2 separate regions of the Homo sapiens genome follow, and region 2 is linked to region 1. The links come from fine-mapping of genetic effects on gene expression. A gene starts in region 1. The other region holds a variant in brackets. All regions are shown on one strand. Distances are from middle to middle.

The links. PIP is the estimated chance that this variant, and not a neighbour inherited with it, causes the effect.
Region 2: its variant is fine-mapped to the expression of CAND1 in fetal neocortex (Walker 2019, PIP 0.95).

The regions. Positions count from the first base shown.
Region 1 is chr12:67,262,217-67,278,242 of GRCh38, forward strand. CAND1 (cullin associated and neddylation dissociated 1) reads left to right here and starts at 7,142. Exons shown (of 15, transcript NM_018448.5): 1 at 7,142-7,569. The coding sequence starts at 7,502. It also overlaps the pseudogene GGTA2P. RefSeq lists enhancers at 6,278-6,577, 6,718-6,977, 7,257-7,908, 15,763-16,026.
Region 2 is chr12:67,347,220-67,363,245 of GRCh38, forward strand. LOC124902957 (a long non-coding RNA gene) reads left to right here. Exons shown (of 2, transcript XR_007063354.1): 2 at 1,991-5,461. It also overlaps the pseudogene MRPL40P1. Among named protein-coding and RNA genes, the nearest start is that of CAND1, 86 kb to the left of the region's middle. The variant C/CTT (reference allele first, on the strand shown) is at 8,757.

The DNA of each region.
Region 1 (16,026 bases):
AAACTTATTTTGCCTATAAATTTGTCCTATTATAATTTGTCTTTAATAAAAACAAAAACTAAAAAAAGTTTCAAAAAAACCTAACTATAATACACCTGTAATTAAATTCTAGTCTTATCCACTGTTTTTGAGTTTTTATTATTTTCTATAATTTTAACTAAATCCTAAATTCTTTCTAGAGTACAAATTTCCAAACTAATATTTTCAATTTTTTTCTTTTATTTTTCTAACTTAAACTCAATAAAATTACTACTACCTCTTTCCTGAGGCTTTACAAACTAAAGCTTATTCCTTATAACACAGACAAAGAAAACGTCAAATTACTACTGCCTTCCTCCTCTATAACTAAAAGTACTTTAACATCCAAATAGTTTCCAACATTAATATTTGCTTTTCTATTTCCATAAAAATGCCTCTTAATAAACTTTTTTCTGCCTTCATCACATAAAAAGGCCTAGCCCATGTACAATACTACCTTCTAAATAAAACAACTAACTAAACTAATCCACCCTCATAAACTAAACAAGACTTAAAGCCACCTTCATAAATATTCATATCCCTATTTACAGCCTATTAAATATATATATTAGCCAACGTGTCATCACATCCAATTACAATTAACAATAAAAACCCTACATAATTAAAAAATTCAAAAATGCCTCAAATAGCCCTACAAAATATACACCAAAAAATTAAATCTATGTGCGACCCTACATTGTCACTAAATCAATAGGGGACATTCTAATTCAAGTCAGGACCATGTTAGAGACAAAAACTACTTATAACATTGGCCTGGCCTACAGGGGTAGATATATCCCTGTGTTATAAAACTTACTACTATTATACCCTCTATGTAAAACTGTAAGACAGACTTTCCCCAAAACTTTCTAAACCTCAAACTATAACACTCCAATAAATATTGTCTATAGGCCCAAATACTCATAAATATTTCCAAATCCAAATAAATCAATTCCATTCTAATACCCCCAAACTATGCCCCTTCTCAACAAAAAAATAGCCAAAACAATTATGGCAGCCATTTTCCATACAAATAAAATAAAATTTGACAATAAAAATTACAACCAAACAGCTTAACTTCAAACTGCATTTTAAAACTTTTTTTCCTTTCCAACTTTCTCCCCAGCCTCAAAATATAACTTGAAAATAAACTACAAATGTATTTTACAACCTCAAAATGTTTTCTTTCCTCCCTTCTCCCAATCTCAAAATATAACTTTAGACAAACTATATATCTGCTTCCTTTTGCCTTAAAATACAGCCTCAAAATGTACTATAAATCGCCACTCCCCTTCTTTCCCATACTATACTCCCATGCGTTATGCATATTTATTTACTTACATCCTTGTTAAGTACATGCCACACTGACATATCTAGTCATATATTTCCATTAAAACGTCAAAGGCCAAATCCTAACACAAACCAGACACCTCCAAAATTCTCTCCCCAGTCAAGGCTGAAACTCAATCCCAGCTAAAAACTGACTACAGGCCAGATGCAAAGGCTCACACCTGTTATCCCAGCACTTCGTGAGGCCGAGGTGGGAGGACTGCTTGAGCCCAGAAATTTGAGACTAGTCTGGGCAACATGGTGAAACCCCATCTCCACCAAAAAAAAATACAAAAAGTTAGCTGTGCTGGATGGTGCATGCCTGTGGTCCTAGCTACTAGGGAGGCTGAGGTAGGAGAGGATCACCTGAGCCTGGGAGGTCAAGACTGCATTGAGCCAAGATCACACCACTGCACTCCAGCCTGGGAGACAGAGTGAGACCCCATCTCCAAGAAAAAACAAAAATTGACCATAAAATTGACTGCAATTAATTTGTAACCTAATTAAAGCCCAAAATGACACCAGGGCCTTCACCAAATAAAACAACAATTCACAATAAGTCATTAAAACAAACCGTGCCACCTCATACCCACTTCCTCTCCTACATTCCAAACCCCTCTCTCCTTAAAAATCTCTATCTTCCCTCCACAAAGGGAAGAGTGGAAATTTTTTAAAATTTCACCCATTCTTCCCCTTGCTAACACAAGTAGTAAAGTCTTGCTCTCTTTCTTTCACATGTCATTATTATTTTGACTCCTTTCTATAAACAAATGGCCGAACCCTTTTGCTGGTTACACGTCTAGTTGTTACACTTCCATAGTGCAGATGAAAAATGAGAGGTTACTTGATTTCTTCAGTTTACTCTTTGATGTCAGCCCTCCAAGTTGGGGTATGAGTGGCACAGGAACCCTGAGTTCCAGAATAGCTAAGTGGTGGGACTAGCTGATGATCCATTGTCCTCTGATGAAGCCACATTCTGGAAATGGAACTCCTTGAAAACCTCTTCGATCCACTGCAGGCATTTGCCTTCTCTGACAGCATCCATATCTCCTCACCAAGGATCTGAAGACATAAGTTGCAGAATCTGGTAGACCGAATACAACTTGGGCAAAACAAGAAGCATCTTCCATTCAAGTCCCTGCTGTTTGTCAGTCATGGGGTCAACCAAGCTGGAAATCACCCATACTGCCTCCCATTCAGTGCCTGGATCCATGATGTATTTAAGCACCAACCTCATGGCATGTGTTCCTGCAAGGTGGCACTGCCCCACAGCGATCAGCCCCTCTCTTGCACTCTCTCTTTGCTATTTCATGGCACTCATGTTGAGGCTGTTTTCACTTCACATTGAGCACCTTGGTTCATTCAGGTTCCCTGGGACTCTGACCATGCACCATCATAATATCTACTGGGAATCTCCACCAAACTTTCACACAGAAACCAAATGACATCCTGATGAGAAAAGAATGGACTACAGATGGTCTGAAACAATCTGTTCTTGAAGTATTTTGAGGATTGCCAAGGCAAACGGTGTCCTTACTGAAAGTTCCCCTGCTGCAAATAAAAACTCCATGTTCTTTAGATCCATCGGAAACAGGAAAACATTGGAATCAAGGGTATAACCCCCTACAACCATATCTCGCTGCCAACACTTCCCTTACCACCTGATTTTCTCCAGGATGTTATCTGACACATGTAGAGTTTTGTTTGTTTGTTTTTAGATGGAATTTCACTCTTGCTGCCCAGGCTGGAGTACAATGGTACAATCTGGCTCAATGCAACCTCTGCCTCCCAGGTTCAAGTGATTCTCCCGCCTCAGCCTCCTGAGTAGGTGGGATTACAGGTGTGCGCCACCATGCCCGGCTAATTTTTTGTATTTTTAGTAGAGACGGGATTTCACCATGTTGGCCAAGCTGGTCTCGAACTCCTGACCTCAGGTGATCCACTCCCTTGGCCTCCCAAAGTACTGGGATTACAGGCATAAGCCGCCGTGCCTGGCCTGTTTCTGGCTTTATCTTTGCCTATGACAAGTTCTTTCTGGTTCAGCTGATAGTATTTCCCCCAAATTCAGAATACATAAGAAATCACTGGGAATTTACACCTGATTACCATAGATTCATTCTCTCATATTACAATGCTCAAAGTTACAAGGAGAGATAGTATGTGATTGCAATGTTGGTGTTTCATTAATATTTTCTTAAAGTTAAAATTGTTTTCTGAGGAAGTAGCCAGAATAATAATTCTCTCAAATTCAAAAAACTGTTGGCACAATTTGAAGTCAGTCATCATTTCTAACCAACGTATATTCTTTTTGCTGCCAAGATAGCTTGACAATTTTAATATCTGCATGATGACCTATAATGATAATCCCAGCAGCATTCTGGTGATAAGATCTTAGAGGGTATGTTGAGGAAGAAATACTTGTTTAGGTGGCTTTATCATGCCACTTGGCTTCGAGGTCATTTTTCCTGTCCTGGAGGATTCCCTTAAAGCACTCCTGGGTGATGTTGAGAAAGTGAATGGGTGTTCCACCAAAAATGGCTGCGTGGTAATAAAAATCCCCCTGGCCAAATGGAATGTATGCCACCGACTCCTTCTGCCTCTCCTAAGTATTCTCCTCAGGATGTGTCCAGTACCACCAGGCCTATAGCTGAGCCACGGACTGGCCCAGGGTCTCCACTCCAAAATTGTCTTGGAACACTTGGTCCACATCCATGCAGAAGAGGAAGTCAACTTCCTGTTGGATGTGGGCCAACATGTGCTCCCTGTTGGTCTTCATGCCCACGATGCTGATGACCTGCTACCTCTTCTCGGGCTTGATCTCAAACACTCTGAAGAAACGCAGAGGACCCAGCTCTATCAACAGCATCCTGGATTATCGGCCATGATGTAAAACATGACTTTGTGGCTTACCATGAAGTACCTATCAGCAGATGCTATGAACTCCTTCAAGTAATACTCTACATGTCTTCCGACAGCAAAAACCGTCAACCCACAGTAATTTTCTGTTTGGCATAATAATTTTCTAGGATGGTTCTGTTCTAAGTGCCTTCCCACACAACCGGCTCATTCCAGCTGGTCACCGTCAGCACCTCTGGGCGATCGTATGGATTAAACCAGTTCCATAGCCGAAGCTCTTTTTTTGTCATCTTCTTTTCTTTTTTCTTTCTCTTTTTCTTTGTCTATGTCTTCTTCTTCCTCTGCTTGAGGATTGTGGGTCCCATTGTTGAAGCAGCTTGGAAACCACCGGCCCTTCTGCCCGCCGCCGTCAACAACTTCTGGGTGTTTTAAGTGATACATCCACAAGAGAGAGCCTTCTTGGGTGTTGATACATTTCCAAACCACAACAATCGCAGTTGAGACAACCAGCACTGGAGGAATTACGTTTCCTTTGACATTCATTATTTTCTCCTTATCATCTGCCCAGCTAATTTTTGTATTTTTAGTAGAGAAAGGGTTTCACCATATTTGGCTGGGCCGGGCGTGGTGGCTCATGCCTGTAGTCCCAGCACTTTGGGAGGCTGAGGCCAGTGGATCACCTGAGGTTAGGAGTTATTTAACTCTTAAAACAACCTGAGGTAATATCCTGATCATCATTTACCCACGAAGAAACTGAAGTTGAGAAAGATGAAAATGAATTGCCTATGACACCAAGTAAGTGGCTGTAAACATGATTTATATTTAAGGAATCTGACTCCAAATATTATAGTTCAGCTGGAAATTCAAAAGTGAAAGAATTTACACACAGAAAAAGACAAACCATGATTTGCTTTCTGAGTGGACACAGGCTAAAAGAAAGTATTATTGATAATACCAAATGACTGAGGCCTTGAGGTCCACACATACAAAAAAAGACCTGCTTCTTTGTGTGTGTGTGTGTGTGTGTGTGTTTTACATTAAATATGGTGGAAAGGCTATTCAGAGCAAAAGGCAATTAATTGTGGCTGAAGCACTAAGGACAGTTTGATGAAAGATATATTAATCATGGCAGATTGGTAAAATGAAATATGGCATTACTGGGGAGAAAAAATATCATATATTACGTATATATTATTATTATCATTTTAAGACGTTGTCTCACTCTGTCGCCCAGGCTGGAGTGCAGTGGCACGATCTCGGCTCACTGCAACCTCCGCCTCCTGGGTTCAAGCAATTTTTCTACGTCAGCCTCCCGAGTAGCTGTGACTACAGGCGCGCCACCATGCCCAGCTAATTTTTGTATTTTTAGTAGAGATGGGGTTTCACCATATTGGCCAGGCTGGTCTCGAACTCCTGATGCCCTGATCTGCCCGCCTCGGCCTCCCAAAGTGGTGGGGTTACAGGCATGAGCCACCGCACCCGGCCTTTATATTACATACATTCAAGTAGAAGGATACATGAGAGCAGATCAGAGGTATGTGTGAAATTTAAACACATATTATGAGGCTAAACCAAGTTTCATCTGTTTTATTAACTCCTATTGCCTGACTTTGAAGTACTCAGTAATAGTTGATGAATACAGAAAACAATGGTAAAGGTCAGGTAGATTTGATCGGATTTGAGTTATGTGTTAGTAGAGAGCTATTTAAAGGTTTGTTGTTGTTTTTAACAGGAGTATCAAGTGAGATTGATTTTTCATCTCTTCACCAGGCTCTCTGTTCTTTTAGAAAGGCCTGTCAGCTAGCTCCATCCCTAACACTTTCAGGGATGTTGACCCCTAGCTGGCAAAACTTGTGTTTAAAATCCCAAATATTAAGCAGATGAAAAACTTGGATACTAAATACTTTCATAACTCATCTCCACGAATTTGTACGTCTGAGGGAGCAATACACAGCTGCAGGTCCATCAAGGCCACAAAAGCTAACTACAGAGATAGTCTTTTAGCTATTTTGAAATCAGTAGGGCCTGACTACAGCCATCTGTCGCATACCCATTACTCTTACTAAGGTCCTGCTGGCGTCAGAGAGGTGGTTCTACGATGCACGGTAGGAGTGTGTCTGGCCAGAGAAGTGGGGAGGCTCAGCTGCCTTGGGAGGTGCAAGTAGTAGCGCTAGGAAGCTGCTGCTAGGCCTCTGGCAAGAACACCAACTGATCCGCAATGCGCCTGGCCAAACTGCAGCAGCCTGCTCTGCAAATACTGCATAACAGAAAAAGCCTGTATTGGAGAATATAAGAATCCGCGGCAGAAACGGAGTGCGCGACGATTCTAAGGTTTTTACCCAGCACGGCTCCCCCATCAGACTGCAAATCCCAGCATTCACTCCTTCCACGGGAGCCAATGAGGAAGCTACTAGTTCCCGCAGCCAATCACATTCTGAGCCAGTGTATCACCCGACTGAATTCTGGGATTTGTGGTTTTTACGTGGCAACATTACACCACGGTGGCTACGGCAATGCAGGCCACGCGTCTGATCCCAAACGACACCTCCCTGTTATAAATTCTTATGTTGGTTCCGCAAGCTAACTCCTTAACTGTCGTTACTCCCAGGCTTCCTCCTTCTCAAAGCTCGTAATCTTTTTCTCTTAATGTCATTAAACAATCAAGTTATTTTCAGATTAAGGCCCACTTGCTCCACTCGTCCCCTGTCCCTTAACCGTCGCTTTAGAGTCTCGCGAGAACAGCCCCTTTTTTTTGTGTTGTCATGCCTCCAAAAGGCGGGTCACATGAAAACTGACACAGGCTTCAGCCAACCGAATTGTTTTTTAACTCTCTTCTCCACAGCGTGCGTGGGGAGGCCTCCGTGAACTCTGACCTTAGCTTTCCGTAGCGCCCGCGTCTGCCGCCCCCGCCCCCGGAGCGAAGGAGGCGGGCTTTGGCCTTTTGCCCTAGGGAGCGAGTGCGGAGCGAGTGGGAGCGAGACGGCCCTGAGTGGAAGTGTCTGGCTCCCCGTAGAGGCCCTTCTGTACGCCCCGCCGCCCATGAGCTCGTTCTCACGCGAACAGCGCCGTCGTTAGGCTGGCTCTGTAGCCTCGGCTTACCCCGGGACAGGCCCACGCCTCGCCAGGGAGGGGGCAGCCCGTCGAGGCGCCTCCCTAGTCAGCGTCGGCGTCGCGCTGCGACCCTGGAAGCGGGAGCCGCCGCGAGCGAGAGGAGGAGCTCCAGTGGCGGCGGCGGCGGCGGCAGCGGCAGCGGGCAGCAGCTCCAGCAGCGCCAGCAGGCGGGATCGAGGCCGTCAACATGGCGAGCGCCTCGTACCACATTTCCAATTTGCTGGAAAAAATGACATCCAGCGACAAGGACTTTAGGTGAGGCCGAGATCCGACCCTCACCCCACCTCGGGGTTCTCGCAGCCGCGGCCCTGGCCGTCACGCAGGCCTTGCCCCACCCCTTCGGCCGTAGCCGGTAGCTTCTCTGCCCCGAAGTCTCCAGCCCACCGGTCCGCTGGCCTCCCGATCCCTGCGGAGCCCCTTTCCTCTCCCCTCTTGCAACCCCCTCCCCCCATTCTTTCTCCTAGGCAGTTGCCCGCCGCGGTCTCTAGGCCCCGTTTGCTTGTCTCAGCGCCCCCACATCCTTCCCTGCCCCACCAGGAGGCGATTCTTGCGTCTCAGGTAGCGCGAAGGGGCTAAACCACCCACCATTGTGGAGAAGGGAGTTGCTCTAGGCCGGGAGACCGGGCGCCGGGCCTATTCGCTTGCCATCCTGCGGCGCTAGGCCGCCTTGCTCGCTGGGGCCCAAGCTGCTGCCCACTCGGGGACCCGGCAGCCTCCTCTCTGCCCGCAGGTGCGCGTGGGCCTTGCTGCATTCAGGTGGAATGATGAACTTTTGCGCTCTTGGCTGATACATAGTTCTTTTGTGGATTATTAATTTTCGTGAAGGTGGGAAGAAGGGGGAGGGGAGCCAGGATGGAGGAAACTTCGCTCATAGGGTTTTCCCGCCAGCATCACTGTCAGTTCCTCTTGTCAGGTAAAACCAACTTAGGAACTCGGGGTTTCAGTCTCATGTCCTCATATCCAAAATCACTGCCAAAGGGGTGGATTGCTGGATCTTAATCATAGCAGACGGATCTTCAAAAGGAAGAGATGTTTAATACGGACCTGGTGAATATGAAGCTTTATTACAGCAGTTCTGTTCAGGAGATCGGTACTGTTGGTTCCAAAGTGTTGTAATATGCATAGTGAAGATTTGTTATATTTTTACAGGTTATCTTTGTTTTTATTTTTCCTTGCACGCTTCGGTGATTGTTGCATTCTTTCCCGCCTCCCATCTCTTCACAAATAAGTTCTCAATCTAAAAAAAAAAAAAAAAAGAAAAAAAAATCGCTTATTTCCTTATACCTGTTTTGTTCTCTAATGCTTAGTGGTTGTAATTTGGGTGCATTTTAAAGGAAATAACAAATAGTCTTCAACTAAAATTGTGACTAAAGAGCTTGTTTGTTTTGTATGAACAATATGTTTTAACACTTGAAAATGTGTCCAAACCGTGTGGACTGGGAAGAACTTTTCGGATTTGTGAAAGGAGAACCATGAAAAAGTAGTAATTGTGTTCCTGATTAAATTGATATACTGGCTTATTAAAATAATCAATGACCACAAAACCACGTATTACTTTAAAAAATATTTCTACCTAGGCAGCTCTTAAATGTATTTAAAACTTAAAAATCATTTCGCTAATGGTAAAAATTTTAGTATTGTAACTTTTTGGAGGTGACATGTTTGTTTTGTGTGTTTTAGATTTGTGTAGTTCTAGGGCCAAAATTAAGATTCTTGGGGGAAATAAAGGTTTTGTGTTGTTTTACGGATTGGAATGCCGTTTGATTTTTGGGGCTTTGCTTGCTTCCAATTCAAGTAATGGATGAGGTGTGTGGCGTGATTTCCTCCCCATTGCTGTCAGTTTGGCTCATCCTGTAAAGGTGGTAAATTTCATTCTGATTGTGGTCAATTTCAGTCTGAAGGTAGCACTTTATAATAATACAATTTTGTTCAACTAGTCATTCTCCTGTATAAGTTTAGAAAGGCTAAAGAAATTATGTGGTGATACCATACATGTGATTATTGACTGAAGCTTGCTTTCTTAAATTTCCTGTGAAAGAAAGATAACATGTACATACCTAGTTGTTTTTTTCTTAAATAAATTACATGAAAGAAATAGTGCTCTGATACTAAATGACAGTCACTGCTGAATTTGGTAAAGATTATGTATGAATTTTGGTTGTACTGAATCAAAACAATTCCTGGAGGATTAGTGTAATATTGATATATTCCTAATAGTTGGTGAATGCTAAACAAGGTATATTTAGGAGCAGTACGTGATTTCCAGTAATTTGGCATCATTAAGATATTTTTATCAACTGTCTTCTAAAAAACATTTTTATAATGCGCTGTAGCCATCTAGTTAATAAACAAGTCTTTGGAACTAAAGCACTTTATATGTTTAGTTTAAACAGACATTTAATAATTAATTAGTGAGCGTTTGGAGTCAAGAATTTTGAAATTTTTTCTGCATATTTTTAGTATAGGCATTTATTTTAATTTGCTCTTTTTTAAAAAAATGATGCCTTGTTCTCATTAGAAGTTTATTTATTTTGGCTTAAATACCAAGATTTGTGGCTACATATTTTAAAAATACCTAGCACTAGAAGGATCTTGAGGGCAAGGTTAACATTATGGAATGACCAACATGTGCAAAGCACTCTGCCTGTACTAAGGACGAGAGAAGAAACAAATGCTGCCAAAATGAAGAGCAAATTTTATTATCCTCATGGTAGAATCCAAAGAGAATTTGACCTAGTCACAAGATCTGGGTTCTAATCATGTGTGATTCTTTGTTATGAACTGTAAGATCTTATGCAAGCTATTTAATTTGAGATTACATTTTCACTTCTGAGAGGCATGGACATGACTAATTACAAAAGGTTGTTATAGGCATAAAATTTCAGGTCTATTTATATAATTACATAGTTCATTAATACAGAGAAGGTAAAGAAATGAATGCAGGCTTAAAAATTTGGAAATTTCTGCATTTTAAAAGAATCTTTTTGTAGGACTATTAAGGCTCAATTTATTGAAAAATTGTAATATTTCTTTTGTGTTTTAGTATTGTGCATTATTTAAAAATGAGATATTAAGACTTAGGAGAAATGGGGAAGCATTAGGATGAGAAATGCTGAGATTAGGAACTCTGCCATATGCAGGGTTTTTGTTGTTGTTGTTGTTTTGGTTTTTTTTGTTTGTTTTTTTGAGATGGAGTCTTTTCTGTCGCCAGGCTGTAGTGCAGGGGCGCCATCTCAGCTCACTTCAACCTCCGCCTCCCAGGTTCAAGCAACTCCCTTGCCTCAGCCTCCCAAGTAGCTGGGATTACAGGCACACACCACCACGCCTGGCTAATTTTTTGTATTTTAGTCAAGACGGGGTTTCACCATGTTCGCCAGCATGGTCTCGATCTTCTAACCTCGTGATCCACCCGCCTGGGCCTCCCAGAGTGCTGGGATTACAGGCCAGCACCGCATCCACCCATGCAGGGTTTTTTGTTTGTTTGTTTTAAAAAAAGGAGACTAGGAGCTCTTTTATTAAAAAAAGGAGGAGGCATTTGTGTGTCTTAATTACTAGGATAGTGCCTGTTACTTACTAGCCTCGGTTTAGTGAAAAGTTATTAATGAATGCCAATTCAAATAAAACCTTCAGAAGAAAAATGAAGAAACATTCCTTGGGACAGTACCTTAGAACAGTGCTTCTCATCACTTCCTCCCTAAAAGAAACACTTCTGGAGTGTACTGAGACTTTTTGCCAGAAAACATTTGTACCAGTGTATATAGTTATTTTAAGGACCTCTAGGGATGCATGTTCCATAAAGGAATAAAGAGTAAACCTTATAATGTAGCCAATAGATAGGGGATTCGGTTGATACCAGAGTGAAAGCTTTAATGTGGATGAACCATGTGACACTCCATTTGTGAATATTAATATTGAATATTTGGTAGGTTGAGGTAACTAAGTTCTTTTCTTTTTTTTTTTTTTTTTTAGAGATAGGGTCTCGCTCTGTCACCCACGCTGGAGTGCAGTGGCACCACCTCAACTCACTGCAGCTTCAACCTCCTGGGCTCAAGCGATTTTCTTCCCACCTCAGCCCCCAGAGTAGCTGGGACTACAGGTGCGCACCACCACACTCAGCTAATTTTTTTTATAGAGATGGGTATCACCATGTTTCCCAGGCTGGTCTCAAACTCTTGATTTCCGGCAATCTGCCCACCTTGGCCTCCCAAAGTGCTGGGATTACAGGCTTGAGCCACTGTGCCCAGCCACTTCTTTTATTTTCATATTCTTCAACCACCAGTTGATTTAAAATATTCCAAGGAATCAAGAGCTAAAGAAAATATCATTATCTTTCTATATATAATAGTTAATATTAATGCTTACTGTGAGCTTGATTTTTGTTTATCCTTACAACTTTAGTAAAAGAGGATAATAATAATCTCGTTTACAGTTGAAGAAACTGAGATTTGGAGAGATTAAGTACTTGTTTAAGGTCAGTTAGATAGTAGGTCTGGGACTTATAGGATCTCTTTACCCCCAGAACATGAACTCTTGACCACCCAGCTATGTCACTTCTCCAGGGTTTAGACTAGTGGATGTTAAGATTCAGGCCTTAAATTTCATTTCCCTCTAAAATTAGGCTTATAGAATATTTCATGCTAGAAGATGCTTTTAATAATTCCTGAGGACTACAAAAAGTTTAAGATCTGGTGCTTACTTTCCCTAAATCTACATGCTTGTTGAATAGTTAAGACACTATTGTAAAAAGATGAATAACCCAGGGCAATATGTAATTGTCAGGCATTAAGTGGCAGAGAATATTAAAGCAAGAAGATTCATGTCCATGGAGAGATTTGAGCCAGGTGTTGAAAATGAAACTCTAGATAGAAAGTGAAAATGTAAAGCACACGATACAAAACTTCACTGGGGAAGAGGGAATAGATAACCTGACTGTAGCTGGATGGATATTGTCCACAGAACTCCTTAAGAATAGGGACCTTGTCTTACTAAACGGAATCGTTCTCTTTGTCTGGCTCTGGGCCATGTGGGTTCTCAGTAGGTGCTTGTTTAAGTAGAATTGGGTTTTATTTCCATTATATAGGGATTTTAGGAACCTCCAGAAAACCATTGTAAAATCAACTAAACTGTTTGTTTAAATACCACTTGATAGAATCTTCTTAAAATAATTCACCCCATTTTGGAATGCAAGTTTTTCCCAATTTGATAAAGGTTTATATTACCAGATTTATTTATTTAAGTGTTTTGGATATTGGACGGTATTTTCTTTTGGAAACTGTTTAAAATGCTTGTAAAAAAAACTCAAGCCTTTTAAGGAATCAGGTTTTCAGAGCTGGAAGGAACCTTAGAGATCCTATCATATAGCTGAAAGTACAGTGTGGGTGGGCATTTACAATAACATAACAGGAAATAGTGAAATTATCTTAAGTACTTGTGCTTGGAGAAAAGCAGGTTTAATCAGAAGAAATAGATTTGCAGAGATTAAGAAGGTGATTTCTGGGCACTTTTAAAAATACTTAGAAGGTTGATGGCAGTAACTTTCTTGATTTTACTTTGATGTTTTTTTCTTGATATATACTATGCTAACTGGTTATCAGCAGTGATTAGGGCTCACCACTGAGAAAGAGGAGGAAGGGACCTCACAGAGAAAACTGGGAAGAAAGATTAGTAAAAATTAGATTTCTTTACATGAACAATATTAAGACTATTCCAATTTAGGTCTTGTGTGGTGGCTCACGACTGTAATTCCAGCACTTTGGGAGGCCAAGGCAGGCAGATCATCTGAGGTCAGGAGTTCATGACCAGCCTGGACAACATGGTGAAACCCCATCTCTACTAAAAATACAAAAATTAGCCGGGCATGGTGGTGCATACCTGTAATCCCAGCTACTCGCGAGGCTGAGGCAGCAGAATTGCTTGAACCTGCGAGGCAGAGGTTGCGTGAGCAGAGATTGCACCACTGCACTGTGGCCTGGGTGACAGAGGGAGACTGTCTCAAAAAGAAAAAAAAAAAAACTGTTCCAACTTAATTCATAGCACTCTAAGGAATAACTGAGGAAAAGTGAAATAGCAGTGGTGTATGTGCAGGATCTCTGAAAGGTAATTGGTGTACTGAGTGATAAAATTGACCATATCAACTAGATTTCTGGTTGGAAGCAAGAGTAAAATTGTGTTTATGTATGATGGGAGAGGCTGTGGTGAGAGTTATTGTGAGTGCAAGGTATCTATCGATCTAGTGCATACCTAGTGTAAGTTCCAGACTGTGTTACTCATCACTGTGTTTGCAGAGTAGAGTTCCTTATGTTGGTGCCCTCAAAATACTTGTTGAATAAAGGAATGAGATGGCACTGCCTACAGGTCATATCAACCTGGGAATTCCATTGAAGTCTGAAACGTAAACATTTATCTTTTTCTTTTCCCGTCTTAATGCCTTCTTTATCCTTATTTTGGCCTGTTAAATTACCATCCACTGAAAGTCACAAGCAGAAAATCTTTGATATCACCCTTCTCCCGTCTGTCTTCTTTAGTCTCCTGATGAGTATTTCTCAAATTAATCTTGCTGTCTCAGGCCTCTTCCTAACCCAGTTTGTTCCCTCTGGCCATTAGAATTTTCTTCCTATATACTGCAGCTGATCATTGCCTCCCTCACTAATTTCCATTGACTACAAGATAAACTCCAGATTTCTTAGCTGTTGCCCATCTGAATTCGTAGAGACTGCTCTCCTAAAATCCCCAACAGTCTCCCTAGTCTCCTAATATAACTCATTTAGTGGATATTTTCTTTGCTCATCTATTTGGTATATTTTTTTAAATCACTTTTTCCTTCTTGGAATTCTCTTATATGGGCATCCTGACACGAGTTGGGTTTTTGTCCGTAATAGTCAGGGAAAACACACACTTTAGGGTATCAGAGGATGTTAGAAGGAACCTATTCATTTGGGTAATTTGGGAAAGAGTCTAAGGAAGTGAAGCCTTGCTTTAGGTTGAGTGTTGTCAGAAAGTGAGGTCAATTCTATGATTCGGCCTCTTAATAAATTTTACAGGGAGGGCTGACCTAAGCAGGGGGAAAGCTGTAGTTGGTAAAGAAGTATCAGTCACTCATTTAACTGGAGAGGGGAATGTTTGGTATTTTGTATTGCTCAGGGACCTTGTCCGAAATGGATGTTCTGTGAGATTGTTTATGTCCAAGAAAACAATATGCCTTAGCTGTTAAGCATCAGATCGGTTAGTAATAACACTGAGGTTTAGTTATGAGTCTCAGATAAGTTTCTGGAATGTGGAGGCTGCTGTTTTTTTCTTTATCAGTGCCCACTTTTGGCCAAGGGTAGACAAAGTTGGGCTGCAGGACATTAATTTTTGATTTTCACATCTTCACTATGGCGGAGATTTTGTTAAGATCAGAGGAATATCCATTCCATGTAGTTTGCAGTTTAACCAAAGTTAATCCTTTCTTCTGTTGTAAGATGAGCAGTTTATTCATCTGATGTGACAATGGCTGCAGGGTAACATTAAGACTCTGGACAAGGATATGTTAGCTGACTGTATTACCCAGTCTTGTGGTTTTCCTTTTACTTCTTTCCTGCTAGCTCATCCTTACCATCCCTATATCTAATCCATTTTGAAGAACTATTAATTTTAGTTTGTAAAATTCAAACCAACTAGTTCTCATTATTTGTAGTATGTTTTGTAACATTATCACAAACACTGAGTTAGCAAGTACTGAACCATTGCTTCTGAGGGAATTATGGAATTAGTTTCTCTGAGTCCTGAGTCACATTATTTTAATCAGTTGATGAGTTTGTAACCTCGTTTTATGAGTGTTTCTTTTAAAGTTGTCTTAATATATATTGCTGATTTATTAACATTGAATTCACAGCCAATAAAGAAGCTTATCTAACACATATGTTTTTTTCAGAAGGCACATTATAGCCTTCTTGCACTTAGGAATGCTAGACAGCATTTCAGCACTGTGCTTGGAGGCCATATTAAACAACAAGAGCGCCAAGAAAAAGCACAAACATGTGAAAAACATGGGCTGAAATAGGCCAAGAAGAAGATGCTTGTTTACAACATGAGAGCTGGAGCTAGAAGGCAGAGTGTTGCTTTGTGCCACCACAGCTGGGAATGTATGTGTTGGATTACTCAAAATTTTCACCACTCGACACTCATCCAAATGACTGTGAAATAGGAAGCATTAATTTTGCTTTACAAATAAATGTTAATGAGTAGGTGAATTTGCAAATATGGAACCTGGGAATAATGAGAATCAACTGTATGTCATTTTTTTTTCCATCTTCATTGATTGCCATAACCTAAGTCAGGCCATCATAATTTCTAACTTAGTCATTCTCCTAACTAGTCTCCATTCAGTATGGCCAAATGAAGATTTGTTCTCTCCAAAGTATGGTCCACAGTATAGCTGGAGTAATGTTTCTGAAATGTAAATCTGATCATTGCATTTATTCCCCATCTGTAACCCAGTTGTTTTTCAGTAGCTTCCCACTCTCTTAGAATAAAGGCTAAAATCCTGATATGGTCTACAAATCCTTTAAATTCCTGGCCCTTGCTTACCTGGCACTAACTTCCTCCTGCTTCACCGTAATTTTGCCTACTCTTTATTTATTTTTGAGACAGAGTGTCACTCTTTTGCTCAGGCTGGGGTGCAGTGACGTGATCTTGACTCACTGCAACCTCCACTGCCCGGCTTCAAGCGAC
Region 2 (16,026 bases), 85 kb after region 1:
GGGCTCAGAAGACAGAAAGATAAGGGAAAGTTTGGAACTTCCTAGATACTTGTTGAATGGTTGTGACCAAAATGCTGATAGAGATATAGATAGTGAAGTCCAGGCTGAGGTGGTTTCAAATGGAGATGAGAAACTTATTGGGAAAGTAAGTAAAGTAAAGGCCACTGTTGCTATGCTTTAGCAAGCATAGCTAAAGCATGCTTGGGCCTTAGAATTATGGTGGGAGGCAAAAGGCACTTCTTACATGGTGATGGCAAGAGAAAATGAGTATTATGCAAAAGCAGAATCCCCTGATAAAACCACCAGATCTCATGAGATTTCTTCACTACCAAGAGAATAGTATGGGGAAAACTGCCCCCATGATTCGAATTATCTCCCATCGGGTCCTTCCCACACCTGCAGGTATTACGGGAGTGCAATTCAAGATGAGATTTGGGTGGGACACAGCGCCAAACCATATCAGTGTTCAACGCACAACAAGGAGGCCAGTGGGGCTGGAACACAGAGAGTGAGGAAAAGAGTACTAGGAGATTAGGTCAGAGAGGAAGTGTCAGGTTGGAAGATGTTATACTCTGGTAAGGACTTCTGTATTAGTCCATTCTCATGTTGCTATAAAGAACTACCTGAGACTAGGTAATTTATAAAGAAAAGAGGTTTAATTGACTCACAGTTCAGCAGGCTGAACAGGAAGCATGGTTGGGGAAGACTCATGAAACTTACAATCATGGCAGAAGGCAAAGGGGAAGCAGACACATCTTACATGGCTGGAGGAGGAAGAGAGCAAAGGGGGAGGTGCTACACACCTTTATACAACCAGATCTCATGAGAACTCACTCTCATGAGAACAGCAAGAGGGAAATCCACCCCCATGATCCAATCGCCTCCCACCAGGCCCCCCATCAAACACTGGGGATTACAATTTGACTCAAGGTTTGGGTGGGGACACAAACCCAAACCATTTCAACTTCATATTTTAGGATGTTAGAAGGGGAGCCTTCACAGAGTGTTTTAGTTTCCTATTGCTATGGTAACAAATTACCACAAAGTTACTGGCTTAGGAAAATACAAATTAATTATCTTCTGGTTCTGGAGGTCAGATATCCAAAATAAGTCTTGCAGAGTGTATTAATTTTCTAGGGCGGCCATGAAGCAAGTACAAACTGGGTGGCTTAAACATCAGAAATTTGTCGTCTCACAGTTCTGGAGGCTAAAATCTGAGATCAAGGTGTCAGCAGGATTGGTGTGAATAATAATCTGTTTCATGCCTTTCCACTAGTTTCTCATGGTTTGCTGGCAATCTTTGGCATACCTTAGTTTGTAGTGCCTCACCACAATCTCTGCTTTCACCTTCATGTGATGTTCTTCCTGTGTTCATGTCTGTGTCCAATTTTCACTTCTTTATCAGGACACTGGTCATATTAAATTAGGTCCTGCCCTAATGACCTCATTTTAACTTGGTTATCTCTATTAAAGACCCTATCTCCGGGTAAGATCACATTCTGAGATACTGGGGGTTAGGACTCCCAAATATTTATTTTTTTGGAGGGGACACAATTCAATTCATAACATACGGGGTTAAAATCAAAGTGATTTCAAGACTGCATTCCTTCAGGATACTCTAGGGGGGAATCTGTTCTTTGACCTTGCCACCTCTAGAGTCCACATTCCTGGGCTCATGGCCCCTCCCAGCAATGGCACCACTCCCACCTCTCCTTCCTTTGGCTCATCTTCTCTAACTCTCACTCTCTTGCCTCCCTCATATAAGAACCTTTGTTATTATACCTGGAGAATCAAAGATAATCTCCCACCTCAAGATCCTTAACTTAGTCACATCTGCAAAGACTCTTTTACCACATAAGGCCACATATTCGCAGGTTCTGGGGGTTGTAGGTTAGGGATTAGGGGATCAGGACATCTTTGAGGGATCATTATTCTGCCCACCTCAGAGGGTTTTGAGCAGAAGAGTGATATAATCTGCATTGTATTTTAGAAGAATCTCTGTACCTGCTGGGTGAAAGGGAAGAATTTGAAGCAGGAGACCCAATAGAAGGCTGTAGCAATGGTTCTGGTGGAAGAAGATGGTGCCCTGGACAAGAGTGGTTGGGGTGGAAGTGCAGAGAAGTTGTCAGATTCTGAATGTGTTGTGAAGATTGACTTGCCCATGGACTGCATGAGACAGGTGAGATAATGACAACTCCTTACTGTCTCTTTTTCAGAATAACAGTAACTCATATTTGTTTACCCCCTTACAATTTTCGACATGGTTTATACATTTATTTTCTCATTAGAATTCCCTACAACCTTTTTATATATATCATTATTTTACATGTATTTTACATAGACAAGACTGGAAGATCAGAGAGGTGATTTCTTCTAGTGATTTGATTTTTAGTTGTTTTGAGCCAAGTTTTTTTTTTTTTGAAATTGTCTTGAAATATGCTTGATGGGTTTTAAGCACAGAAATTACTAGGTAAGTTTATACTGGTGATGAAGGGAAACTGGTGTCCTCTGATGTCACCTATGTTTTATAAATAAATTCACAAATTCCAAAGCCAGAGATAGTTCCATATTTAGTTTGGTGAGGATTAAATGAGTTTATATATACAAAGAGTTTAGAACATTGTCTGGTACATGTAAGCCCTATATAATAATAATCATGACAATTATTATTTACTATTAGAGTCAGTACTTCCAAAAGATATTTGAAATGGCTATTTTAAAAAGGCAAAACAAAACAAAGAAAAAAATACAGGAAAAATTTGCATTTTGAGTTCCTAGAATAAATCAGTTGCTGCAGTTAAATGTTTTAGTTCTGAGCATCTAGGCAGCTATGTCAAAAATGAAAACACTGTTATGTAATATAGTTCTTGTTGATTTGTAATTGAAATCAAATTAGGTCATCTAAAGAAATGAACTTTTTATGAAATTCTAATCATAATTAAATGTGCAGATCCTTGTACAAAGGGGCTTTGAAACAATATTTTGGACTTTCTTAAAAGTCTTAAAGAAGGCCTTTCAGGCATGACGTTAAATCTTAATGCAAAGAAGTATTGTATGCATGTGCTAAACCCACATATTCTAGGTGTTTATTTTTTATAAGTGTCCATTTTCCCTCCTGTTGCCAGAGTGACTTTTAAAAATGCAAACACGATCATGTCACTCCCCTGCTTAAAATTCTTCCCTGACTCTTCATTGCCCACAGTGGTGGTCTCAAGCTTATTTTTAGTCATGGAACCATTTCTTCAAATTAGAACTTACACAGAAATTCAATATGTAAATAAAATATAGGCTGAGTTGCTCTGGATGAAGTACAGGTGAGGACCTGGCATCTGCATTTCCAGCTTCATCTACCTCTCTGCTCGTGCACCTTGTTCCATCCTCCAACCATCAGGATATAATCAGAACCCTTCAGTGTGGTCTAAACAACTTCCATTCAACCCATAAGTTGCCATGCTGGCTGCACTTAGTTTGAGCTTAGATGAGAATCTAACTTACTAACCAAACTGGTACAATTTTGAAAATGAGTTGTTAAAAAATTAACATTATATGAGTTTTGAAATATTTACTTATTGTTCAACAAACTGGTTTTATGTTATTGTTAAGCATATAAAACAATTCCATTAAAACTGTTTTAAAAGGTCTCTCTAAAAATATTAAAGCAAAAATAAAAAACAAAGATCAAAAATAAAAACAAAAAATAAAAAATTATTAAAGCAGATATATTGATTGAATATTTCAAAAAACACAAGTGTAATAATTACTCTTCAAACATAGTACTGTATTTTACTTAGTTTCTTAGTTTGGTCTGCCTTTAAGCCTATGACATTGTTTCTCTTCCTCCTCCCCTTCTTTTCTTTCTTTATTCTTTGAGTAAATAATGCTTTTTTCCCTAATTTGGTTCCAAAATTTTAATAAAATTGCCTCTAATCTTCAAAATATAATTTTATGATATATAAATGGAAAATGTTTGATATATTTACTTCTAGATGAAAATTCTATTTTTAATGAGAATATATTCTCTCTGTCAGTGGTGAGGTAATCAGTAAGCTCACAACAAATGCGGCTAAATAGAAGATATTCCCAATTCTCTTTTAAAATATATTAAAATGGGTAAACATTTTAGCCTAGATATTTTTCTTTCAATCTGGAATGCCTTTCTTTGACATGCACTTCTATAAGACAAATCTTGTAGATCAATATTTCTCAGGGCCAGGCTGCCAACTAGTCCTAGTGCTAGGCTGTGAGCTGGCATGCACTATGTGCCTACCCAGTGGCTTCTGGAGCAGGTTTGAGGCACCCACCAGCGAGCTTCAGTGTTGTCCTCCTACGAACTCATTCCTGTGAGAGCAGAACCTCTTCGAGAGCAGAAGGTGAATTCTAAAAAAGACCAAGCAGGAAAGGGCTGCTTGAAAAATAAGATATGAAAACTGGAAAAGGCTAGCCAAGAGCTCATTCTTGTTGCAGATTTTATTAGCCTTGTGAGGTTCTTGGATAAAGCAAGCCAGTGGCCTCAGGTGGAGCTCTCCTTGGAGGAGAGTGAGTGGAGAGCTCTGCTTCTGATGAGTGGTCTCTGTACAAGCAGCGAGAGCACACTATGGACAGGGACACCATCAAGGCTGTGCTGGGGACCCAGCAGGAAGCTCTGCAGGAGCTACCACTCAAGTCCCCTGAGTTCCCCACTGAGACCATCAAGTGGGACTGCAGCATGTTCCCCTTTGAATGGGAAGGTCCAGATTATACACTATGGGTCTCTAACTACCAGCCCCCCAAAGGCAGGTACAATGACATCACCAAGATGTACACACAGGTAGAGCTCAAGAGAGAGTTGCAGCAGCCAACCTTGGAACATGAGGCCCCGAGAGTCAGAATGACCAGGGTTCCAGTCGGCTTTCCACAGAATCAGGCATACTGATAATAAAGACATGTTTAATCAAAAAAGAAAAAAAAATAAAAGGAAGAAAAACGTTGTCTTTATGACTGTTTGGAGCATTTCACCAAATTTAGGTTTTGTGAAAATGTAGACTTCTCAACTCTATTCCATTCTATTCTGGAACAGAATGCCAATTTATCTGAATAAACGTAGGAGCTCCATCAAAAGACTCTTCAAGTTGAAATATTCCAAAGTGCAATTATAGAATTTCAAAATTAAATCCTGTATCCTGTTTAAATTTGTATTGTTAACATTTGTTCACATCCTTTTTTTTTGTATAGACAAATTTCATTTGCTCTTCTGTAAGTTTTGTTTTCAATAACTTTAATTCTCTAAAAAGTTTTGCAAGCTGAAGGTTTTTGTTCTTCCACTTGTTGAATGCCTTGATTTAAAATTTCAATACTTGTTAATAAAATGTGACCAAAATTTAGAAAACTTGTTTACAAGAGTTGTACGCCACTTGGGTTGACTTGAAAGTAATTTATTTGAAGAATCAAACATTTCAATTAAAGCTTCATGATATGGTTTGGATTTCTTTTCCTGCCCAAATCTCATGTTGAATTGGAGGAGGGGACTGGTGGGAGGTCACTGGATCATGGGGGCAGGTTTCCTTCTTGCTGTTCTCCTGGTAGTGAGTGAGTTCTCATGAGATCTGATCGTTTAAAAGCATGTGGCACCTCCCTCTTCTTTTTCTTTCCTGATTCATCATGGTAAGATGTGCTTGCTTTCCCTTAGTCATCTGCCGTGATTGTAAGTTTCCTGAGGCCTTCTAGCCTCATGCTTCCTGTATAGCCTGTGGAACTGTGAGTCAATTAAACCTCTTTTCTTCATAAATTACCCAGTATCAGGTATAGCAGTGTGAGAACAGACTAATAGACTTCAATTAAAGATTTATTCTTGATAGGTCCAAAACTTTGGCTGATGGGGAAATGGGGCTGTCTAGAACGCCAGATACATGTTACAAGGGGAGGGAGGAAAGTAAGTGAGAGCATGTCTTATTCTTCTTCTGAACTGGTGAGGCAGTCATCTTAGCTGTCCATAGTGCTATGGACCACTGGAAAACAGCCCCTTTCTTAATGTCTTGGCCATCAGGAATGGTCATCCATCTGGCAAACATTTGCAGTTTGCCTACCACGTGTTAGATACAGCCTGGGGTGCTGGGGTTGCAGAGTCAAACTCTTAATCTTTTTTCAGAATGAACCTATGGCAGGTGAGAGGGGAAAACAAACCATTTTACCAGCATATGATGGGCACTGTGATGGAGTTATAAATAGGGTCTTGTAGGAGCATAAAAGCAAGGGGCTGCAGACTGCTTGGATGAGACAAGCGAAGGCAGCTCCTGAGCTGAAGTTTGAAAACAAGTAGGCATTACTCAGACTGTCAAAAGGCAGGCATTGGGCAAAAAAGCAAGAGCATATATGTAGTGTAGTGACTGAGGGTGCCTAGTGTATTTAGGGAAACCTTCAAGTAGCTCTGTATGCTGGAAGTTGAGTTTGTGTTGCAAGTGTGGAAGGTGAGAAATTTGCCTAAAATCAACTGATCAGAGGCTGGTGAACACTACAGGGAAAGGATTGGTGACAATTTAGATACATTTCTGAAACTTTTGAATTTCATAAAAGATGACCTCTCAGTGGCATTTTTTTTTTTTCAAGATGGAGTCTAGCTCTGTGGAGTGCAGTGGCGCGATCTTGGCTCACTGCAACCTCCACCTCCCAGGTTCAAGAGATTCTCCTGCCTCAGCTTCCCAAGTAGCTGGAATTACAGGCACCTGCCACCATGCCCAGCTAATTTTTGTATCTTTAGAAGAGGCGGCATTTCACTGTCTTGGCCAGGCTGGTCTCAAACTTCTGACCTTGTGATCCACCCACCTCGGCCTCCCAAAGTGCTGGGATTACAAGCTTGAGCCACTGTGCCCGGCTGACAATCAATTTTATACCGACAACTCTGTTTACTTTTGTATAATCTTACTGATAGGTTAGAACATGGCTATCTCATTGTGATGACAGATTGCAGGAGACAGTTGCTCAAATGATAGTATCGGTCTATCTTGGTCAAGTGTCTTAGCTATATGAATTTATCATTTAACACTAACAATACAAATGTTCAGCTGGTAAATAGCTCAAAGATCGACAGGAAGGTGTCTAAAACTACAGGAGTGTCCAAGCAAGCAAGGTTTCACAGTGAGGGAGGAAGTGGAATGAAAAGGGGGAGATGGCAGACTTGAAAAGAGCCCAAGAGTTTGGTTGTGGGCCAGTGAAGCATTTCAGTTTTCCGGATAGTTATGAAAACTGAAACTATGACTCCAAATGTGGGTTCAAAGGGAGGGTGGGATGCTGAAATATTGTTTTTGCTTTGTGTAGGCAGAGTTCCTGTCTCAAGAAGAGGTTTGGCAGTAACAAAGTTTAGCTATTCTGCTGGCCATCACTCCGGAAAGTGTTCCCACGAAGTGGCTGACTTAAAAAGTAAGCTTGACTAAGTATCATATCACATGAGCAGCACTGGAAAGAGGCAGAGCTGAGGGAAAGAGGGAAGCTTCTGTGTAGACGTCGACTTTACTCTTTGACCACCATACCTTGCCTTTCAGTTTGTGGGTAGCTTAGGAAACCGAAGTCAGACAACATAATTGGCTTTTGGGGGATAAGAATTGTGTCTTTCGGATGTTTCTCATAGTGCTTTACAGGATATACCCTCAAAAGAAGCTGAAAAAATTTTAAAAAGAAAGTCTGACACATTTCAATGCTGTGTTCAAGCCTTCTGTTTTCCAAAAGAGGCCATCAGGTATCACAGCAAATCACTTTTGTGGATTATAAAAGGAAGGTGACTTGCAGCTCTAAAATCTTAAATTCTCTGCTCCATGTTCTGTGTTTTATAAATAAGCATAATTGGTATTCAGAAAAGAAATCTGCAATCTCAGCCTACTTCAGGATGTTGGTGAGTTGACTAAGCTGTAAAACTCCTTAAAAGTCAGGATGTTTGGGCAGAGGAGGGCAAAATGTCTAGACAGAACAGAAGGTTTAAACTGCCCCTGGTGAAATTTAGTGGGAATTGACTTTAGCAGCTCTTCCTCCTGGGTGAATAGCTTGTGATTTGCGACTGTGAAGTGGTTGGACTGAAATGCTTTCTACTCTGAAGTTGTATGACTTTTTTTTTTCACATAGTGAATAGAGATATTGATGGAAAAGACATAACTATCAAGATAAAAGTGTGTTTTAAAATAATACTTTTAAGTATTCGACTGTATTCCTTTGTCCTTATGCAAACTAAACCTTGAGAAACAAAGACTGGTAAGATCTTGTGGAGAGAAAGTCAAATATTCCAATTCATTTGGCTTTGTTTGTGCCATATGTGTAAATAACTCCAACAAGATAGTCTGAGAAATAAGAGTTCATCTGGGAACATTCTTAGTCTTGTTATTAATGTTTTAAAATCCTTAGAACTCTTTTGCCAAATTCTGAGACTTAAAATGCAAAGATAAGGATGATTATTTTCAGAGCCAAGTGTGGAAATTATTCTTCTAGTATCTCTCTGTGTTCATGCGGTGCTATTGACTCTGGCAAAATGGGATCTCATATCTCTTTACTAATGAGAACTCAAATCTTCCCTGGGGACTGGCAACTTTAAAGGCTCATTACTCATATGTTTGATGTTATCTTTTGCTGGCAAATAACTGACGCTAGAGTCTTGAACATTTGCCTTTTAGGTTTGCTGTTTGCCCAACATTATGCTAATTCATCTGAAATGGAACTGTCAGCGGCTGCAGAATGTCTTTACCTTTCTTGAGAATTGAAGAAATTTATCTTCACTGGAAGCCTTAATACTAAGCACC[C/CTT]TTTTTTTTTTTTTTTTTTTTTTTTGGCGTTCTTGGTCTTTTCTTCCAGGAGGTGGCGATAGAACATCATAAATATCAAGGTACAAAATGCATGCGTTTTTGCCCCTCAAAGCCTCCCATTGTGGAGCTTATGACCAGCGTGAGTTACTATTCAAGATTTGAGCCTTGGGTGAGCTCTTTTATTGTAATATTTGACTTCCAAGTCATATCTGAAGAGAGAGCAGAAGTACTTTCAACTCCACTGATCACTTGTTTTTCCACTTAGCTTCTCATTTTCTGAGTTTGTGCTGTTGAGTGCAGGAAATGTTAAATAGGTTGGCCTTCAGTTGAAAGATACTGAGATTTACTAGCGCTGTTGTAGATTGGGCTTTTGAACCTAGAATTATTGCTTTTGGTGTAAACCAACATGACTGCCATGCTGTTTCCTAGACATATGAGGATACTACAGGCTCTATTAGAGACTAATTTTTAAAATAGCCCCTGATATTCCTCAACTCTTTATATTTAGCATTTTGTACACTATTCTCCAAGTTGGCATTTGGCAGCTTTTCCTCCTCTTAAGGCAAAGTTAAAAAAAAAAAAAAAAAAAAAAAGGGACATTTGCCAAGGAACAATTTCACCACAGGAGCTTGGCTGGGAAACGGGAATTTGGTATCTTGCTTGTGCACCTGCCAGTTGATTTCTGATTTCTGTATTAGGGGAGAGAGAAAGTTATTCTGAGGTTTATCATCAACAGCTGCCTAATCTTAATAGGTTTAGCTATCTTTTAGAGTTATCTAATTTGAAAATATCTGCTGTTTGATTACCTTTAATATTTTCCTTTTTAAAAAATTATACTTTAAGTTCTGGGGTACATGTGCACAACGTGCTGGTTTGTTACATAGGTTTACATGTGCCATGTTGGTTTGTTGCACCCATAAACTCATCATTTACATTAGGTATTTCTCTTAATGCTATCCCTCCCCTGGGCCCCTGAATATTTTCTTAAAACAAAAAGTTCCTGGTTTAGCAAGCAAAACTGGGATAGGTATGCAAAAGAGAATCCAATGGAGAGTTGAGCACAAGCAGCTAGAAGAAGAAAATGAATATACAGAGAAGGGAAGTTTGTAAAACTAAGGGTGGGAACTTTCTATAGGGCAGCACAGAATAGTTTTTTATTCACAGAAACTTTAACTATATTGCAGTACTTCGCAATTGAAAAGTGGAAAAGATAAATGCTTCATTCTAGTGCAGTAGTTTTGTAAGGGTTCTTTTTCTAATATGAAGTTTTTTTTTAACATTAATGTCTTCTAAAGTACATCTAGGTGGTCAATAAGTGCTTATTTGATTCATTCCTAATACAAATATTTTTGAGCTCCTACTGTTCACTGGATCGAAATCCTAATAAGTTTGAGTATGCATTTGCTATCTCAAGACGTTTGCTTTCTAATAGGTGGAGATAGACAGTAAGCAATTATTGGTAAGTAATGCTTTCTAAAACATGTAGGTTTTTCAGATTTTGGTAATCACAGCATGAAAGAAAGTCATCAAGGCCAGTTCTATGCAAGGCTGCAAAGCTAGGAAAGTATCAAAACAGCAGATCTCTGGCTTTAAATTCTAGCTTATGATTCATTAACAGTGTGCCCGTGAGCAAATTGCTTAACCTCTCTCAACTTCAGTTTTTTCATGTAAAATGGTAATAATAGTACTTATTGGTGAGTCTGTTATGGGGATTTAATGAAATAATGTAAGAAAAGCATTCAGCATGGCACTCACTTGAGACTCAATAAGTGGTAGCTACTGTGATCATTTCTGCTTGTCTTGCTTCAGCTGGTTTCCTTCCACTGCCAAGGGCTTGGTTCCTTGTGCTTGCTTGTTGCTGCCATTCTAGAGGAACACTCCTCCTGCCTCTTCAACAATACATGCACGCTGTGATGCTTCCTTTAGGTCTGCCGTCTCCAGGGGAATGGGGTTCTATTTCTAGAACTTACTTCAGGCTCCTGATCTCTGCCTGATCCAGTTAGATAACTGAATAGACTAGCCTGTGCCAAAGAGGTCAGCGCTAACCTTCACCCTTTGTTATTTTTGAGACAGAGTCTCGCTCTGTTGCCTAGGCTGGAGTGCAATGGCACGATCTTGGCTCACTGCAAGCTCTGCCTCCAGGGTTCAGGTCATTCTTCTGCCTCAGCTTCCCAAGTAGCTGGGACTACAGGTGCTCGCCACCACGCCTGGCTAATTTTTGTATTTTTAGTAAGAAAGGGGTTTCACCGTGTTAGCCAGGATGGTCTTGATCTCCTGACCTTGTGATCAGCCCGCCTCGGCCTCCCAAAGTGCTGGGATTACAGGCATGAGCCACCGTGCCCGGCCACCTTCATCTTTTACCTTGTTGAAAGAGGGCTGCTGAGACAGCCTGTCAGTGTGCACCATCCTGCATTCTGGCTTTTCTTTCTGAGGAGCGCTGCCTGTGGTCCTTTAACAGTTGCATTTCTGCTTCCAATGGCCGGACAGCCCAGGTATTCATCAAAAAGTGCTTATGAAGGGACTCTTCATTTCTAAATGTTGGGTGGACAGTGGTGGACAAAACAGACACTGGTGTCGCATTGAGCTTGGAGAAAAATGGAGACATAGACATTACACAGACAGACACACAGGGAAAAATATTTACAAATTTGGTAAGTACCACAAAGGAGGTGGTATGAGGAAGAACTAGGAGTCTGATTTAGATCAAGAAAGTGTATTAATTTTCTAGGGCTGCTGTAACAAAGTGCCACAAGCTGGGTGACTTTAACATCAGAAATTTATTGTCTCACAGCTGTGAAGAGTAGACATCTGAGATCAAGATTTTGGCAGGATTAGTTCCTTCTGAGGTCTGTGAGGAAGAATCTGTTCTATGCCTCCCTCCCAGCATCTGGGGGTTTGCTGGCAGCCTCTGGCGTTCCGTGGTTTTTGCTGCATCACCCCAACCTCTGCTTTCATCTTCACATTGTCTTCTCCTTGTGTGCATGTCTGACTTCAAATTTCCTCTTTTTATAAGGACTCCAGTCCTGCTGGACTAGAGGCCCACACTACTTCAGGAAGACCTCATCTAATTAGATCTGCAACAACCCTATTACCAAACAAGTTTACATTCTGAAGTAATGGGGATTAGGACTTTTAACACATGAATTTTTGTGGTTATGCAGTTCAACCCCCTACAGTCAACAGGGAAGAGCTCTCCAAGGAAGAAAAGAAAGGCATTTTAGTGGTAGAAGTGTCTCTTGGGGCTCTACAGTCATTCGGTATAAACAGCTGTTGCTCAGCCCTGTGTGAAGTTGGCCTTGTCACGGTAGCTTAGGCTGGGAATGGAGACAGAAAAACTCACATGAATTGTGCTTGTATATCTTGTTACTCATATGATTCTACATTTGAAAGTGGAAATTCAGTCTCCCCCGCAAGAGATGGGGCAGGAGGCTTTTTTTACTTCTTGTTCTTTGACATTAATGTGATCACTCTAGTTTAGGCTTTTGGATCATAGGGCAGGGAATGAAAATTTGGATAGTGTGACAGATTTATGCAATCATCTGTCGTGTCAGAGTTGCATGGAAATTTTAGATACTGAAAAAGTATCATTTGTGTTTTCATCCATCCATCCATCCATCTATTGCTATATGTGGGCACTGTGGTAGCTAATGGCAATGCAATCAGGTGATAGAAAAAATATTTAACCACTCATGATGTCAGGGCCAAAACCAATAACATCAGTAAACAATTGGTATGGCCACCCCAGGGCCAATCCACTAGCTACCAGCCATGTGTACAATACTTAATAACCAGCAATTGTCCTAGGTCTCATGAAGCTGGCAGCTGGCTAATAGAAATAAGATGCATACACATGTGTAATTTAAAGGTTTTTTTTCCCTAGAGTATGGGGTCTCATTTTGTTACCCAGGGGTGCAATGGTATAATCATGGCTTACTGAAATCTCAAATTTCTGGGCTCAAACAGTCCTCTCAGCTCAGCCTCCTGAGGAGCCAAGACTACAGGTGTGCACCACCATGCCTTGCTATTTTTCAAAATTTTTTTTATAGCGATGGGATTTTACTATGTTGCCCAGGCTGGTCTTGAACTTCTGGCCTCAAGTGATCCTCCAGTATTGGCCTCTGAAGTGTTGAGATTACAGGCATGAGCCACTGCACCTGGCCAATTTAAAGTTTTTTAATAGCTATGTTAAAATGTAAGAAGAGACCACTGAAATTAATTTAACAATATATTTTATTTATCCCAATATATCTGTCATTTCAACATGCAATGAATATAAAAATTATTGATGCAATATACCACATTCTTTTTTAATACTAAGTCTTCAAAATCTGGTATGTATTCTAATGCATTTACAGCACATCTTAATGGACAAACCACATTTCCAGGGCTCAATATTCACATGTGGCTGGTGGCTACCATATTGGACAGCACAGGACTAGAGGATAAATGGAGATCAGAGATCTAGCTCTCACTTTCTTAGAAAGAGAAGAGACCTACATAGAATAAATGTCCTTTGAGGGGCATTTGAAAGAGATGTAGTAGATGGATCATGGAGTGAGGGGAGTATATTAAAATATTAAATGAATGTATTTTTCATTTCCTTTTCCAACTTGAAATGTTTTCTTGCAGCCTTTCTGTCAGTGTGAGTCCCAGAAAAGTGGTGAGTATAAACAATGATTTGAGGAGAAGGAAATAATTGGAGTCAAGGCCCTGACAAACAAGATAAAGAAATAAAACAAGATTCTTCTAATATGAAGGAGAAAAGGATAGATAGAAGGGAGGGAGTGAAAGAAGGAGGTGTCAGTGTCCTTGCTTTCTCCTATTCTCTTAGGGTTGAACCATGGTAAGAGGTGAGGTCTAGAAACACGTGTGTAAGCATGAGGGAATGTAATGAAATTGGTAGTAGTGGCCCACTTCCATAAACATATTAGAGGGTACCAGAATACACAACCCCAATATATGCCTCTTTGGCATATGAGTTATTTTGAACTAAAGCCATTGAGAACCGGCAGTTGTAAGGAGAACTCTAAAAACAAGGCACAAGTTTTCTTTTTGTAAAGGAAAAGTTACATTTATAAAGGAAGTTTCCATTTGTAAAAGGTGTCTCCCTCTATCATAGCAGAAAGAGTAGGATTCTTAACAACTCTTATCAGTGGAGAAGGTACATACTTAAATCTTTATAACAAACCTTACTAAAAAACCCTGGGTTACTATACTTTTCCTGGTTACCTTCCCATAACTTGACCACCCAGAAGCTCAAATTTCTTTCCTTTGTTTAGCCTAAGATGTTATACAAGCCCAAGTTCTAACCATCCCTTGGGGTTATTTATCACTGGGTGCTCCCATGTGTACATGCATGTGTTAAACTTATGTTTGTTTTTCTCTTTTTAATATTTTGCAAGACTAATTTATATGGCCCCAGCCAGAAAACCTAAGGTGGGTAAAGAAAAAAGGTTTTCTTCTTCTTTCCTCTACAAGAGCCTGGGGAAGAATGCAAGCGTCTGCATTTAAAATGGCACCATATCTCAAACAGTGAAAGGGCAATGGGGTAGAATGGGATAGAGTGGGGTTCAGAGAGAGAGAGAGAGAAACAGAGATAACAGGAAAGAGAGATGAGCCTGAGGCTCTGGGCAACCACAACCTGCAGGATATCACAGAGCCCCTGAGTGCCCCAGTGAGAGGGTTTGGAGACACTCAGAGGTTGGAGTACCATCAGGGGCTGGGGATTAGAAGAAATAAATGAAGAATTTGAGGACCTGTTAAATGGAAGCAAATGACTGGAATCATAGCCTGTAATAGCGGATGTCAGCTCAGTGTTCCTGAAGGCCAGTGTGATATTGTGATATAGAATATATATTTGGCTTTCACCCCCAGTTCCTGGCACAGAGCTCCTAAAATCCTGGTAATTTCCTGAATGATAGGTGTAATAATAGAAACATCTTTTGTTATAATATTTGGTCTTAGTCCCAGGTCCCTGACACCAAGCTTTGAAGACCCTTGCAATCCCCACAGTGATGACTGTCTTTTGCATGGTAATGAGATGTTTTGTGGCTGGGGCCCCTAGAAAGCTGGGGACTGCTCACCATAAAGACCAAGGCATAATGAGAGGGCTGGAACTTTCAGCCCCACCCCCTGACTTTTGAAGAGGGGAGAGGGGCTGGAGATTAAGTCAATCACCAATGGTCAATGATTTAATCAAGCATGCCCACATAATGAAATTTTCATAAAAACCCTAAATGACAGTGTTTGGAGAGCATTTAGGTTGATGAACACAGTGACGTGCTGGAAGGGTGGTGCACCCAGAGAGAACATGGAAGTTCCGCACTCCTTCCCACATACCTTGCCTAATGCAGTTCTTCCATGCGACTGTTCTTGAGTTGTATCGTTTAGAATAAGCCTGTGAATGTAAGCAGTGTTTTCCTGAGTTCTGTGAGTTTTGCTAGGAGCTGTGAAAAAAAGTTCTCTGAAAAAGGAATTTGGAGGAAAGAGACTTTTTTTTCAGCAAATAGTTTGCAAACTGGCAGAAGCAGCCTTTGGAGTAAAAGGAAGATACCTTCCAGAGAGCAAAGAGAGTGTTTGAGCTTTATAGCAAAATTCCGGCCCAGGTTCCCAATTAGGTCTGTTCATACGAATGAAGGATTGAAACACGCTTAGTTCTGATTGGTTGGCACAGCTAAGTTCCGATTGGTCAATACAGCTGAGCCCTGATTGGTTGACACAGCTGATATTTGATTGGTTGGCTTCCAAGCCCCACACTGGAAGTCTGTCAGATGTTTCTTTCAAACAGCCAGTAGGGGTGTATTGGGCCACAGTTTATCTTGGTACCAAAAACAGGAACTAGTTTGGCTTGATTTTAGAAAGGGAGGTCCTATGGTACTTTTACAATATCTTTCTGAGAACACGGAGTACCTGACTGCTCCCTCACGCTGCCATGCTGCCTGGTTCTGTTTTAACTTTGAGCACCTAAAAATGACCATTTGTCAAAATGGGAACCCCTGATTTATAGCCAGTTGGTCAGAAGCATGGGAGGTCTGAACTTCGGATTGGCATCTAAAATGAGGGTAGCCTTGTCGTGGGGCTGGGCCCTTAACCTATGGAATCTGTTGCTAGCTCCAGGTACATAGTGTCATAATTGAATTGTAGGACACCTAGTTGGTATCCTGAGAGTTAGAGAATTGGTTAGTGTGAGACCTTCCTCCCCTCACCAATGTTTGGTGTTCTGTGGATAGAAACAGATCACAGTAGCTAGAAGACACACAAGAGACCTGAA